Homo sapiens: one gene and its partners. The protein of the gene in region 1 interacts with the protein of each later gene in a pairwise test. Each region holds a gene or a part of one and is shown in the gene's direction. Other genes may lie near its edges.

Evidence for each region. The genes of interacting proteins can lie anywhere in the genome.
Region 2: the proteins of RDH13 (region 1) and PSKH1 interact in a two-hybrid assay, tested with the Homo sapiens proteins (one large-scale study listed by BioGRID and IntAct).
Region 3: the proteins of RDH13 (region 1) and CYP3A5 interact in a two-hybrid assay, tested with the Homo sapiens proteins (one large-scale study listed by BioGRID and IntAct).

The regions. Positions count from the first base shown.
Region 1 is NC_000019.10:55,048,602-55,053,775, reverse strand, and holds part of RDH13 (retinol dehydrogenase 13 isoform 1 precursor), read left to right. Parts: intron 1-5,012; coding exon 5,013-5,117; intron 5,118-5,174. UniProt on the Homo sapiens protein: Retinol dehydrogenase with a clear preference for NADP. Oxidizes all-trans-retinol, but seems to reduce all-trans-retinal with much higher efficiency. Has no activity toward steroids.
Region 2 is NC_000016.10:67,906,051-67,911,224, forward strand, and holds part of PSKH1 (serine/threonine-protein kinase H1), read left to right. Parts: intron 1-2,629; 5' UTR 2,630-2,699; coding exon 2,700-3,656; intron 3,657-5,174. UniProt on the Homo sapiens protein: Serine/threonine protein kinase that may be involved in the regulation of pre-mRNA processing.
Region 3 is NC_000007.14:99,665,526-99,670,699, reverse strand, and holds part of CYP3A5 (cytochrome P450 3A5), read left to right. Parts: exon of another isoform or gene 1-1,549; coding exon of another isoform or gene 1,550-1,605; exon of another isoform or gene 1,606-2,876; intron 2,877-3,634; coding exon 3,635-3,748; intron 3,749-4,010; coding exon 4,011-4,099; intron 4,100-5,174. UniProt on the Homo sapiens protein: A cytochrome P450 monooxygenase involved in the metabolism of steroid hormones and vitamins.

The DNA.
Region 1 (5,174 bases):
CCCGGCTGGACACACCTGGGCAGGTGATGCCTCCTCTCTTAGCCACACGTTCCTCTTCCGGGAAATGGAATAATTCCTTCTATTTTCTGGGATTCTCTAGAGGGGTTTTTTTTTTTTTCTGAGACGGTATCTTGCTTTGTCGCCCAGGCTGGAGGACAGTGGCACATCTCGGCTCACTCCAAGCTCCGCCTCCCGGGTTCATGCCATTCTCCTGCCTCAGCCTCCCGAGTGGCGGGGGACTACAGGCGCCTGCCACCACGCCCGGCTAATTTTTTATATTTTTTACTAGAGACGGGGTTTCACCGTGTTAGCCAGGATGGTCTCGATCTCCTGACCTCATGATCCAGCCACCTCGGCCTCCCAAAGTGCTGGGATTACAGGCATGAGCCACCACGCCCAGCCTCTCTAGAGGATTAAGTAAAGCTGTGTCTGTGACTTTTTTAGCAAATCAAGTACCAGCTTCTTGGTGTTTTCCTAAGATCAACAGCCAGGAATAAAGACAGCAGTGGATTTAAAAATAGTGAAGATCGTCCATTTTATGTGGTGTGTATTCTACCACACTGGGGCAGGCCAGGTGCAGCGGTTCACGCCTGTCATCCCGGCACTTTGGGAGACAGAAGTTTTGGGAAGATCAGTTTGTGAGATGACACTCTGACAAAGCTGGAAGCTGTGGCTCTTCCCAGCTCCCGACTAGAAAGAACACAAAGCAAAGAGCCCCAGGAAGCAGGTACCCACAGCCTTGTTTATCAGGGAGTTTGAGATCAGCCTGGGCAACATAGCAAGACCTCATCTCTACAAAAAATACAAAACAATCAGGCAGGCGTGCAGGCTCACGCCTGTAATCCCAGCACTTTGGGAGGCTGAGGCGGGCGGATCACAAGGTCAGGAGATCGAGACCATCCTGGCCAACACGGTGAAACCCCGTGTCTACTAAGAAACACAAAAAAATTAGCCGGGCGTGGTGGCGGGCACCTGTAACCCAGCTACTTGGGAGGCTGAGGCAGGAGAATGGCGTGAACCCGGGAGGTGGAGCTTGCAGTGAGCCGAGATGGCGCCACTGCACTCCAGCCTGGGTGACAGAGTGAGACTCCATCTCAAAAAAAAAATAAAAAACAATGAGGCAGGCGTGATGGTGTGCACTTGTAGTCCCAACTACTTGGGAGGTGGAGGTGGGAGGATTGCTTGAGCCTGGGAGGTTGAGGCTGCAGTGAGGGATTTTTTTTTTTTTTTTTTAAGACGGAGTTTTGCTCTTGTTGCCCAGGCTGGTGCAATGACGGGATCTTGGCTCACGGCATCCTCCACCTCCTGGGTTCAAGTGATTCTCCTGCCTCAGCCTCCCGAGTAGCTGGGATTACAGGCATGCGCCACCACGCCCGGCTAATTTTGTATTTTTAGTAGAGACGGGGTTTCTTCCTGTTGGTCAGGCTGCAACCTCCATCTCCTGGTTTCAAATAATTCTCCTGCCTCAGCCTCCTGAGTAGCTGGGATTACAGGCACCTGCCACCATGCCCGGCTACTTTTTTGTTTTAGGTAGAGACAGGGTTTCACCATGTTGGTCAGGCTGGTTGACCTCAGGTGATCTGCCCGCCTCGGCCTCCCAAAGTGCTGGGATTACAGATGTGAGCCACCACGCCCGGCCTGCAGTGAGCTTTGATTGTACCACTGCACTCGGGGTGAGACCCTGTGTCCAAAAAAAAAAAAAAAAAAAAAAAGTTGAGGCAGTTCCCAGATAAACAAAACAACAGGCCAGGCACTGTGGCCCACGCCTGCAATCCCAGCACTTTGGGAGGCCGAGGTGGGCGAATTGCCTAAGCTCAGAAATTCGAGACCAGCCTAAGCAACATAGCCAAACCCCATTTCTACAAAAAATTTTAAAAGTAGCTGCTTGTGGTGTCGGGCGCCTGTGGTTCAGCTATGTGGAAGGCTGAGGTGGGAGGATCGTTTGAGCCCTGGCGGCGGAGGTTGCTGTGAGCTGAGATCGCGCCACTGCACTCCAGCCTGGGCCACTGAGTGAGCTTCCCTCTCATAAAAAGAAAAAAAAAAAAACAGGCTGGGCGCGGTGGCTCACACCTGTAATCCCTGCACTTTGGGAGGCAGAGGCGGGTGGATCACGAGGTGAAGAATTCAAGACCAGCCTGACCAAGATGGTGAAACCCCGTCTCTACTAAAAATGCAAAAATTAGCAGGGTGCGGTGGCGGGCACCTGTAATCCCAGTACTCGGGAGGCTGAGGCAGCAGAATCGCCTGAACCCAGGCGGTAGAGGTTGCAGTGGGCCATGGGCCAAGATCACACCACTGCACTCCAGCCTGGGTGGCAGAGTGAGACTTCATCTCAAAAAAAAAAAGAAAAAAAACCAAAACAAAACACCAGAAGCTGGCGGCACTCCTGGGCGCCCAGCTGTGAGTGGAGTCTCCCTGTCCCGCCTTTGGGCCTTACCCGTGCTGCGCCTGCTGCCTGCATCCCCCTTCCCTGGGTCTCCGCACGTGGGCCCTGCCTCATTTTCCCGGTCCCAGTTTCTGCGTCACCTCCTGAGAGGGGCCTCCTGTCAGCTTCCACGCAGCTCTGTCACGGGTAGATTCTCTCACGAGTGGAAGTGGCTCTCAGCTGCACTGGAATGTCCGGTCCACACGGACGGGGCCTCGGCTGTGCTGTCCACCCTGTATTTCCAGTGCCCAGTAATAGGTGCTTAGAAAATACTTACTGAATGAGTAAGTATACAGTTGTACCAGGCAGGTGATGTTATTATCCTTTTTTTTTTTTTTTTTTTACAAGGAGTAAACTGAGTCACAGAGAAGTGATGTGACTTGGCCAGGATCATGCAGCTGGTCGGGGTGGAGCCAGGCTTTGAACCTGTCTGTCCTGCTCCAGAGCTGGTATTCATGACGGGTGTGCTGCAACCCCCTCCTTCTCACACAGAGAACCAGATGGTGTCTGTGTGTTACGCGCTGGACACCTAATTCACGATCCCCGCCGAAAACCACTTCGGGAGCATTATGAATTCCATTGTGTCCTCCACCCCCAAGGATAGGTTGGGATCCTGAACCCCCATCCCTCAGCATGTGACTTCATTTAGAGGTGGGTGTTTACAGAGGTCCTGAAGTGAAAATGAGGTCATTAGGGTGGGCCCTAATCCAGTGACTGGTGTCCTTATGAAAAGGGGAGATTTGCGCACAGAAACAGACGTGCTAGCTGGGCATGGTGGCGCATGCCTGTGGCCCCAGCTACTTGGGAGGCTGAGCAAGAAGACTGCTTGAGCCTGGGAGGTTGAGGCTGCAGTGAGCAGTGATTGCGCCACTGTACTCCAGCCCAGGTGTCAGAGGGAGACCCTGTCTCAAAGAAATATAAAAAATAGGCCAAGTAGACTGAGTGTGGTGGCTCACGCCTGCAGTCCCAGCACTTTGGGAGGCTGAGGTAGGTGGATCACGAGGTCAGGAGTGTGAGACTAGCCTGGCCAACATGGTGAAGCCCCGTCTCTACTAAAGATACAAAAAATTAACCCGGTGTGGTGGTGGATGCCTGTAGTCCAGCTACTTGGGAGGCTGAGGCAGGAGAATTGTTTGAACCTGGGAGGCAGAGGTTGCAGTGAGCCAAGATCGCACCATTGCACTCCAGCCTGGGTGACAAGAGTGAAACTCCATCTCCCCCCCCCAAAAAAAAAAAAATAGGCTGGGGGCAGTGAAATTGCAGCACTCTGGGAGGCCAAAGCAGGAGGATTGCTTGAGTTCAAGAGTTTGAGACCAGCCTGGGCAACATAGTGAGACCATGTCTGAAAAATCTAAAATTAAAAAAGGAAAAATGAAAAAAAAAAAAGAGACAGCTCCAAAGGGAAGAGGAAGGGAAGAGGGAGAGAGGAGATGGTCACCTGTGAGCCAAGGAGAGAGACCAGAGCGGATCCTCCCTGAGGGCCCTGAGAGGGAACCAGCCCTGCCCACACCTTGATCTGGGACTTCCAGCCTCTGGGACTGTGATTTTTTTTTTTTTTTTTGAGATGGAGTTTTGCTTTTATTGCCCAGGATGGAGTGTAATGATGCGATCTCGGCTCACTGCACCCTCTGCCTCCTGGTTTCAAGCGATTTTCCCGCCTCAGCCTCCTGAGTAGCTGGGATTACAGGTGCATGCCACCACGCCTGGCTAATTTTGTATTTTTAGTAAAGACGCGGTTTCTCCATGTTGGCCAGGCTGGTCTCAAACTCCTGACCTCAGGTGATCTGCCCACCTCGGCCTCCCAAAGTGCTGGGATTACAGGCGTGAGCCACTGTGCCCGGCCAGGTCTGTGAGGTTTTAAACCACCTGTCTGTGGCACTTTGTTACGGAACCCGAGCTGAGTGGTACAGGGAGGAAGGCCCTGTGGTTCAGCGCATTTTACAGCTGAGGAAACTGAGGCTGCAGTCTCCATCTGTGTGTCCTTTGGTTGCTTGTATGAGTGAGGTGGCAGGTTTGGGAATGAAACCACGCCTGCGGTGCCGGGGCTCCCACCGGTAACCTCCCGTTTTTGGCCTCGGGGCTCCGGCAGGAAGGAGTCCCAAGGCTTAGATGGAGGTGCGGAGGGCGTGTGAGTGTCCTGGAGCTGCTGTAACAATGTACTGCAAACCCAGTGGCTTACACCCTCAGACGTGCATTCCCTCACGGTTCCGGAAGCCGGCAGTCTGAATCGCGGTGTCCCTGTGGCTGTGACCTGTGAGACGGGCCATAATCCTCCCAGCCTCTTCCACTTCCAGCGGGGGCGGCCCACCCTCACCTTGGAGCTGTGCCTCTCCGGTCTTTGCCTCTGTCCACACATGGCCTTCTCCCCATGTGTCTCTGTCTCTGTTTTCCCTTCCTATAAGGACACCAGTCATTGGATTAGGGCTCACCCTAATGACCGCATCCTGACATGGCCACTTCGGCACAGACCCTGTTTCCGGCACAGGCCACATTCACAGGTTGTGGGAGCACAGGAGTGTTTCTGCTGGTGCATCAGGCTGGGGTCTGTCCTCACCGGGATGTCTCCTCCTCCACCCCTCTCTTCCAGAGGAGGAGCGAGTGGACATTCTAATCAACAACGCGGGTGTGATGCGGTGCCCCCACTGGACCACCGAGGACGGCTTCGAGATGCAGTTTGGCGTTAACCACCTGGGTGAGGCCTGGGCAGGGGCTGCACCATGGGTTCAAGCGATCCTCCCCCGTCGTCCTC
Region 2 (5,174 bases), on another chromosome or scaffold:
TCTTCCAGTTCTATTTGTCATAATTTTTTTTTTTCTTTTTGAGACAGAGTTTCACTCTTGTTGCCCAGGCTGGAGTGCAATCACGCGATCTCGGCTACTCTAACCTCCGCCTCCCGGGTTCAAACAATTCTTCTGCCTCAGCCTCCCAAGTAGCTGGGATTACAGGCATGTGCCACCAAGCCCGGCTAATTTTGTATTTTTAGTAGAGACAGGGTTTCACCATGTTGGCCTGGCTGGTCTCGAACTCCCGACCTCTGGTGATCCACCCGCCTTGGCCTCCCAAAGTGCTAGGATTACAGGCGTGAGCCTCCGCGCCCAGCCTTTTTTTTTTTTTCTTTTAAGACAGATCTCTGTTGCCCAGGCTGGAGTGCAGTGGCACAATCTTGGCTCACTGCAACCTCCACCAGGTTCAAGTGACTCTTCTGCCTCAGCCTCCCAAGTAGCTGGGGTTACAGGTGTGCATCACCATGCCCGGCTAATGTTTTTGTATTTTTAGTAGAGATGGAGTTTCACCATGTTGGCCAGACTGGTCTTGAACTCCTGACCTCAAGTGATCCGCCCACCTCGGCCTCCCAAAGTGCTGGGATTACAGGTGTGAGCTACCGGGCCCAGCCTGTGTGTCATAATTAATAGGAAATCCTTATCTCTCTTCAACCCTTGGGGTCCTCAGACATAGAGAAGAGCCCTCTCATTAGAAAGGTGGTGACCTCTGGAAGCAGTAACTTCAGCACTGCACCTTGTCCAGGGCCCCACCAGCCCCAGGGTATTTAGTTCATGGTTGGAACATCTCTGTCTGGGAATCAAACTGGAAGGGACCCTGGATCCCCATCATAAGGAAGCAAGATACCCTGATCTTCATCCTGAGTTAAATCTGGGTGAAACTGCCAGTGTCCTCTCTGAGCTCAAGCCCCTCTGACTCTTTTTTTTTTTTGAGACGGAGTCTCACTCTGTTGCCCAGGCTGGAGTGCAGTGGCAGGATCTCGGCTCACTGCAAGCTCCGCCTCCCGGGTTCACGCCATTCTCCTGCCTCAGCCTCCCGAGTAGCTGGGACTACAGGCGCCTGCCACCACGCCCGGCTAATTTTTTGTATTTTTAGTAGAGATGGGGTTTCACTGTGTTAGCCAGGATAGTCTCGATCTCCTGACCTTGTGATCCGCCCGCCTCGGTCTCCCAAAGTGCTGAGGTTACAGACCTGAGCCACCGCGCCTGGCCAACTCTTTTTTTTTTTGACATGGAGTCTCACTCTTTTGTCCAGGCTGGAGTGGGGTGGCGCAGTGTCAGCTCACAGCAACCTCTGCCTCCCGGGTTCAAGCAATTCTTCTGCCTCAGCCCCCCAAGTGGCTGGGATTACAGGCGCCCACCACCACACCCAGCTAATTTTTGTACTTGTAGTAGAAATGGGGTTTCACCATATTGGCCAGGCTGATCTCAAACTCCTGACCTCAGGTGATCTGCCCGCCTCGGCCTTCCAAAGTGATGGGATTACAGGCATGAGCCACTGTGCCCGGCCCCGCCTCTGACTCTTGAATGAAGACCAGGCGAGTTTTGCAGTCACTTGGTGGCAGTGTGCTGAGGCTTGTGGTCCCAAGTTCACTGGGGTTGATTCCAGCAGCTCTGGGCCTTGTGTGGGATTTCAGCCATCCATGTAGTGTGCTGGGGAAGTGAGAGACCCTGGAATAGGGAGTTAAACTGCCAGGGTGGGGACAGTGCATTAGCAAAGGAGTGGAAGCCTTCCAGGAGAATGAGGGAGAGCCCCAGGGAAGTGGTTTGTTGCTTGTTACAGAGGGACCAACCCCTGTAGGAAGCCTAAAGGGCTGGGAAAGATATGCATGAAGGAGGCCTTGGAGAAGCAGCTTTCTGAGCCCTGGTGGGTGATGGTGTTAGAGAGCAGGCCTCCAACACTTCACACCCCCATTTCAGAAAAGATGAGTCAAGAGTAATAAGAGGAATGATTTTAACATTTTAGAAACATGGGCCTTCGGCTAGGATAAGGGGCCCAGGCAGAGGAGTGAGGAGGGTGGGCGCCCTGACAGCTGAGGCTATGCGTGTTCCTGCCCCCTCTCAGGGTTGAAGAGCAGCATGAGACTGAGGCCCAGGGAGATGAGTCAAAGCCGTGAAGCTCGGGCCATCTTTTCAGCTAGACCCTGTGTTGAGTCTGGGCTCTTGAACAGCAAAGCCATACTCCCGACCAGGGAAATAAATGAGAGCCAGGACTTCAGTTTTTTGTTTGTTTGTTTGAGACAGAGTCTTACTCTGTCACCCAGGCTGGAGTGCAGTGGTGCAATCTCAGCTCACTGCAGCCTCCGCCTCCTGGGTTCAATCGATTCTTGTGCCTCAGCCTCCCGAGTAGGTGGGATTACAGATGTGTGCCACCACGCCTGGCTAATTTTTGTATTTTTAGTAGAGATGGGTTTTCACCATGTTGGCCAGCTGGTCTTGAACTCCTGACCTCAGGTAATCCACCTGCCTCAGCTTCCCAAGGTGTTGGGATTACAGGTGTGAGCCATCACGCCTGGCCAGGAGTTTGGTTTTAATGAGACTGAGTTTCTGGAGAGGGAGGGCTGAGGAGGATGGCTGATTTCCTTAGAGTTGGCCTGGCTGTGCTGACTTGTTCTCTCTTTGTGTGTAGGTGTAGACGGGGCACTGCCTTCAGAGCAGGTCCTGCCAGCCTCGCTGGAGAGGATGCCCTCGTGTCCGTGATGGGCTGTGGGACAAGCAAGGTCCTTCCCGAGCCACCCAAGGATGTCCAGCTGGATCTGGTCAAGAAGGTGGAGCCCTTCAGTGGCACTAAGAGTGACGTGTACAAGCACTTCATCACAGAGGTGGACAGTGTTGGCCCTGTCAAAGCCGGGTTCCCAGCAGCAAGTCAGTATGCACACCCCTGCCCCGGTCCCCCGACTGCTGGCCACACGGAGCCTCCCTCAGAACCACCACGCAGGGCCAGGGTAGCTAAGTACAGGGCCAAGTTTGACCCACGTGTTACAGCTAAGTATGACATCAAGGCCCTAATTGGCCGAGGCAGCTTCAGCCGAGTGGTACGTGTAGAGCACCGGGCAACCCGGCAGCCGTATGCCATCAAGATGATTGAGACCAAGTACCGGGAGGGGCGGGAGGTGTGTGAGTCGGAGCTGCGTGTGCTGCGTCGGGTGCGTCATGCCAACATCATCCAGCTGGTGGAGGTGTTCGAGACACAGGAGCGGGTGTACATGGTGATGGAGCTGGCCACTGGTGGAGAGCTCTTTGACCGCATCATTGCCAAGGGCTCCTTCACCGAGCGTGACGCCACGCGGGTGCTGCAGATGGTGCTGGATGGCGTCCGGTATCTGCATGCACTGGGCATCACACACCGAGACCTCAAACCTGAGAATCTGCTCTACTACCATCCGGGCACTGACTCCAAGATCATCATCACCGACTTCGGCCTGGCCAGTGCTCGCAAGAAGGGTGATGACTGCTTGATGAAGACCACCTGTGGCACGCCTGAGTACATTGCCCCAGAAGTCCTGGTCCGCAAGCCATACACCAACTCAGTGGACATGTGGGCGCTGGGCGTCATTGCCTACATCCTACTCAGTGGCACCATGCCGTTTGAGGATGACAACCGTACCCGGCTGTACCGGCAGATCCTCAGGGGCAAGTACAGTTACTCTGGGGAGGTGAGTCTGTCCTGCCCCTGTCCTGGATGTTGGGGAGGCACCTGCGGGGGCAGGTATATCCTGCAGCTCTCAGTCAGAGGTATGTCCTCAGGGCCATGCTCGTGAGGGCCAGGCAGGTCATATAAAAGGGACAAAGTGAGACTATCAGAATGTAGTTTGGGTTCCCTCAAGGTGAGCCCTGAGACAAGGACTTGGGAGCAGATAGTTTATTTGGGATGTGATTTGAGTAACTAAAAGTGAAGGAGTGGGAAAAGTGAGGCAGGAAGGGAGAAAGTCAGTAGAGTATATTGAGAAATGGACTGCCACTGTGGGCCACTGGGAACCTTGGTAATAACCATGTGGAATGTGCCTCATAGTTGTACCACCAAAGAGCAGGAACGTGAGTTTCTTTTTGTTTTGTTTTTTTTTTAATCCACTGACTCCTGTACTTCATGGGTTGAGAATTTCTTTGAGGACACTAAATCTCTGGTGCTTCTGGGCTGTCCTGATACCAACTAGTGCTAGAGAAAGTCTTCAGGCAGAGAAGCAGAGAGATGCAGGCACTGGCGGTGGGAAGCTGTTGCCAGGCACCAAGCAGTGTGCCACAGCTGCAGATGAGCTCAGGGGGTGGGCTGAGAGGATGTGGGCAGGGCCTTCCCAGCATCTGCTCTGTGGGGCCCCAGCCAAGCTAGACTGAACATGCCCATCTCAGAGAGCAGCTTCTCATCACTGTCCAGTTTCACCACACAATGAGGACCTCGTGTGTCCAGATCTGATTTTTTTTTAGAAGAGAAACCAGAAAATCTGATCTTTTATTTTTTGAGATGGAGTCTTGCTCTGTTGCCCAGGCTGGAGTTCAGTGGCACAATCTTGGCTCATTGCAGTCTCCACCTCATGGGTCCAAGTGATTCTCCTGCCTCAGCCTCCCAAGTGGCTGGGATTACAGACCTGGGATTACAGGCCCGCATCACCTCCCCCAGCTAATTTTTGTATTTTTAGTAGAGATGAGGTTTCGCGACGTTGGCCAGCCTGGTCTCGAACTCCAGACCTCAGGTCATCCGCCGGCCTTGGCCTCCCAAAGTGCTGGGATTACAGGCGTGAGCCACTGCACCTGGCCAGAAAATCTAATCTTAAAATGTTAGAATATTCTGATTCACATATTTAAGCAGCTTCTTGTGCGCCAGCAAACACTAACCTGCAGGTCACATTCAACCGCCAGGCTGTCAGTTTGTGTCTTTGGATCCATTGATAGTCCTGATGCCTCCAAAAATGTGTGAGGTTTCAGCACTGTTGGGAGCTGATGGAAGGTACAGAAAAAGTGAGGGCTGGTTGGTCCTTAGGAAGGATGCTGACTGGGTAAAAGACAAGGCTGACTGCAGGAAGCAGCAAGCATGGCAGCTGGAGCCTAGTGGTGTGCTGGGAAGGCTGTGAAGAAGAGAGTCTGTGTCGGCTTTATGTGGGAGGGAGGTGAGCTTGGCAGGATGACAAGATTTTGCCAAGGCAGTGAGAACCCCCTCTTCTAGGGGGCTCCCCATAGGG
Region 3 (5,174 bases), on another chromosome or scaffold:
GGTGTGATTGTGAAGCAAGGGATATTTGTCATTGGGAAGACAGGTCTTACAAAAGTCCAGTAAAGAGGCAAAATCAAATTTTTCTATAAGTTGAACATCAGATTGCAGCTCTAGGCATTCCATTTCAAAATTGCCAGGTAACATATATATGTCGACTGAAAATGGAGTTGCAAATATACCAAAATATTGATGATTTTTTCAGAAATCTTGAAATACCTGTTTTCAAATTCCTGTATCAAATTGAAAAGCAAGGCTGCGTATTTTTGGCTGTTCACAGGACCATGTTTAGCCAACATGTCGAAATGCATAAAATTGTTTGCCTTAATTTGAGCTTGCCATAATTTCAGTTTCATATGGAATGCTGTTATGGTTTGAAACATTGTATTGTTAAGTTGGTTTTCAACTTGAAGACACAGGTTTAACTCACTTAAATGGGCCGTCAAACCCACTAAAAATGCTAAATCTGTAAGCCAGTTTTCATTGTCAAGTTCTGGCACCAATTTTGTTTGATACCATAAACAGCTTGATTTCACATCACAAAGCATAAAATCTTTACATTTTGCCTTGACTTAACCATCTTACTTCTAAAAAGTGAATGACTTGCTAGAGTCAGCATCCATACTTTTAAGGAATTCCTGAAACTAGCGATGATTCAATTCCTGGGCCCTTGTGAAATTTACAGCCTTGATGACAATTTGCATGACGTTATCTACTTTTAAAGCTTGTGCACATGGATTTTCTTGATGTATTATGCAATAATACTTCATCAAATGTGAGTTTTGTGTGGCAACTGCATCATCTATTAATTGTACAAGTCCCTCTCTTTTACCTACCATCGCCAGGGCAGCATCTGTAGCTATATCACATATGTTTACAAAGGACAAAGAAAATTGCTTTAACATATTTTTCACTGCTTCATATAAATCTCTTGATTTAGTTGTGTCTTTTAATAGCATGGTGACATTTCGATTTCTTCAGTGACATTATATTCATCATCAATACCTCTAATAAAAATAGCAAGTTGTGCCGTATCTGTAGTGTCAGTGCCTTCATCCATCACCAAAGCATAAAATTTTAAATTAGCAGTTTTACTCTCCAAACGTCTTTCAATAGATTTCCCAATTTCTCCAATTCTCCTGGCTATAGTCTGGTGAGACAAACTGATTTTAGAAATATCAGTTTCTCAAGGCAAATAATATCTACCACATCTTCCAGACATTGCTTAATAAACTCACCATCAGTAAATGGTTTTGATTTTTTTGCTATTAAATTTGCTACCACATAACTAGGTTTTACCTTACGATTGAGTCCGAGTTGTAACTTTTTAAAAAATCTTTTTTGTTGAAAAGACAGACTTTTTTTCAGTTCTGCTATTTTGTCCTTACAACACATACACACCAAATTTGTCAGCACGTTTTTGCATATAATGCCTCTTCAAATTGTAGTCTTTGAAAACTGGCACAAATTCCGTGGAAATTAAGCAGAGTGCTTCGCTATTTGCCTCAACAAGAAAAAGTCATTTGTCCACTTTTCATTGAACAATCTTCCTTCATCCATAATTTTTGTTTTTTAGGGTTTTCTTTTTAAGACATTGTGGAAGCCATTCTGGAATTAAAAGCATTATAATAGATAAGCAACTATATTTACTTTTATTATGGAAATTAACAGATAGGAAAATAGAACAGAAAGCAAGGTTTAATAATCAAATAAGAATACTTACATGTCTTCTAAATAATATTAAACACCTATCATCTACAAAGGTAGGTTGAAATATTATTGATAATTGCTGGGTTTTACTTGCCAAATTGCCACAAACACACCTAATACCTGACAGTGTCAATTCAACTGTCCGTGATTAGAAGATAACACACTGGAAGTCGCACACCACCATAAAACTGAAGCCACACATGCGTACAAATGGCGACAGTGTCTGGTGTACAGCAGCGCTCTGCCTTGTCCAGAATACACACTTGAATTCTTTGTCACAATTCACTTCACGTGGCACTGCAATAGCGTCCTCTCGCTCTTTGTTAGTTAATTTTAATGGCTTTTAATTTCTTCTTGCTGAACTGTTTGCAATTATAATGCAAATTATGGATACTAGTCCATTATTTGTGGATGTGACATACTCTGATTACCCCTTTCCATTCCATTGTTGTCTACGAAGTTCACACTTGAGAATCACATAGTCAAATTACAAAATTACAAAAAAAATTGCAAAAAAACTCAAAATGTTTTAAGAAAGTTTCCACATTTGTATTGGGATACATTCAAAGCCATCCTGGACTGCATGAGGCCTGCAGGCCACAAGTTGGACAAGCTTGAATTAAACCAATAGAACAATTTGGGTATAATCTATATCTTTACTATGTTCAGCCTTTCATCCCGTGAATATAGTATGCCTCTCCATTTCTTTAGCTTTTATTACTTTCCTCAACATTTTATAGTTTTCAGCATAGAGGTCCTGTACATCTTTTGTTAGATTTACACCAGAAATATTTCATTTTTGTTGGAGTAACTGTAAATGATACTGTTTTTCTTGTATTTTCAGATATTGATTATTGTTACATAGAAATGTGAATAATTTTGTTTGTTGATCTTGTATCCTATAGCCTTGCAGAACTTACCTATTCGTTCTAGAAATTTTTTTGTATATTCCTTGACATTTTATACATTGACAATTATGTCACCTGAAAATAGAGACAATTCTATTATTTCCTTTCCAATCTGTATGCCTTTTATTTCTTTTTCTTGTCTAGTGTATTAAGACATCAGGTATGCTCTTTAGTAAGAATGTTGAGAGTGGGCATTTTTTAGTTCTTCTTGATCTTGGAAAAACCATTCAGTCCTTCATCATTAAATGTGATTTAACTGAATGATTTTTTTACAGATTGTCTTTATCAAATGAAGGAACTGTCTCTCTCTTCCTAGTTTATTGAGATTTTATCATGACAGCTGGAAGTACACATTTTAAAACAAAACATAGTTGTGGAAGATAAGAGAAAGTTCCAAGCATGCTGGCTTGATAGTCCAGCCCCAAGTTGGGAAAAGTAATTATCCCTTTCTTTTTCCTTCTATTTATGGAATAAAAAATTAAGAGAAAAGAATTTTCAAGGAAATTGCATTATTCCTTCAAAACAGGTTTCTAGTCTTTAAGTATTACCTACTTTTCAAAAAAAAATCACCACATCATGGCATCCCTTTTTCAAGTTGCCCATGCTGTAGGTGTATTAAAGACAGAGCTGGTCTGAGGCAACATACAGTCTGCCCATCTGTCACCAATCCTTTTCTACTCTGCACACTCCTGGGGAAGGGCTAGGTCTTGTTCCTGTCTATTCCACTGGAAGAACAGTTCCCTACCACGTGGAGCATTTGCAATTAAAAGGAGACTGAGATATAGAGGCAGGAGACCACACCAGATGGCTGGGTCTCCCCACTCCCACCCCCGCCCCACATACACTCAGAAGAGGCTAGGCATCTAGGATCTCCATTGAGCATCTTGAATATGGCTTGCCATAATATCATATACAGTCAATAAATATTTGTTAAATAAGGATGCCTCTTCAATATATTTTGTGCAACCATGAAGATCACCACAACTAATGTGAGAAAAAATGTTTCTGTTGAACTCTAGTCTTTAGGCCCAGTGGGATTTATGAAAAGTGCCATCTCTTTAGCTGAGGATGAAGAATGGAAGAGAATACGGTCATTGCTGTCTCCAACCTTCACCAGCGGAAAACTCAAGGAGGTATGAAAATAAGATGAGTCTTAATTAGAAATGTAAAGAATGAATCTGGGGACAGGTAGAAAGTAAGATCACAGTCCGTTTCCAAGGGGTAGTCCACTGAGTTCGAGCTTCCTAAAAATGGTCTTTTATCTTTATGTACAGAAAAGACATCACAAAATTCATTACAAAATGTCACTTACTGCTCCATGCTGGAGAAAGCCATATCCTTCTGGGACTTGAGTCTGCACATTTAACTACAGGTACTGATCTGTTTTGTGCTTAGATGTTCCCCATCATTGCCCAGTATGGAGATGTATTGGTGAGAAACTTGAGGCGGGAAGCAGAGAAAGGCAAGCCTGTCACCTTGAAAGAGTAAGTAGGAGCACAGCCATGGGGTTCTGAGCTGTCATGAGCCCTTCCAGCTGCCTGCCATGGAGTCGACAGTCGCACTGTTGGGTTACTCCAGTGACCAGACAAAAGCAGGGCAGCGCTGCAACTCCAAAGAGCCACCTAAGAGGGAGTGGCTCCCATGAGGCGGCAAGTCAGCAAGGGAAAAGGGCCTTCTCTCCTGTGCACAGGAGCCAGGATTTACTTATCTGTTAACTTGTCACCATAAATATTCTGGGAGATTAAATACATACTTTAGAAATTAAAAAAACATGATTGTATCAAAGTTTTGAGTGTAGTGGATATGGAACTGTGGGTAAGCAAGCATTTGGTACTTGTTGCCTTGCATTGGGTAAGATGGGAAAGTTACAATGGGGAACTTGGAACAATTTCAATCCCTTCATGGTTTTTCTGAGAATATCAGCAAACTATGAACTATTAAACCTTCCCACTACTTCCTTTTCCTCCAATCTCAAAAAAGAAAGGGTGCTAGAAATGCTATGTGTAGAGCAAGCCTATTATTTGCTGTCTACAATGGTATGTGCTTCAATTATGCAGGAACGACAGGTGTAATCTGAGCCTGTCCTGTTCAGACTTGGGACATGTGGTCACTCAGTTTTGGGTTCTCCAAATCAATGTTGGAGAGATCTATTTTTTTTAACCAGAACATTCTTGATTGTCACATCTTACAAAAATGACTCTGCTCTCAGCGCAACTTCAGGTCAGAGGAGCTGGGGATAGTGGGGTTTTCCAGAGCATTAGCAGGGAGTGTAGAGAATAAAGGATGATATTTCTAGGAACTCAGAACAGGGTGTTACTGTTTTGTAAAGTGTTGAAGAGGAATTGGCTCTGGGCATAGAGTCTGTAGTCAGACAACGCCACCTTTCTTGAATCCACTAGGAAGAGTTAATTATTCTACTCTTGTTCTGCTGAAGCACAGAGCTTACATATCTTATATCATCCACACTCAACACATGCTACTGTAGTTGTCTGATAATGGGTCTCTGTCTTCCTATGACTGGGCTCCTTGACCTCAGAGGTGAGTCTAACTCAGCTTGGT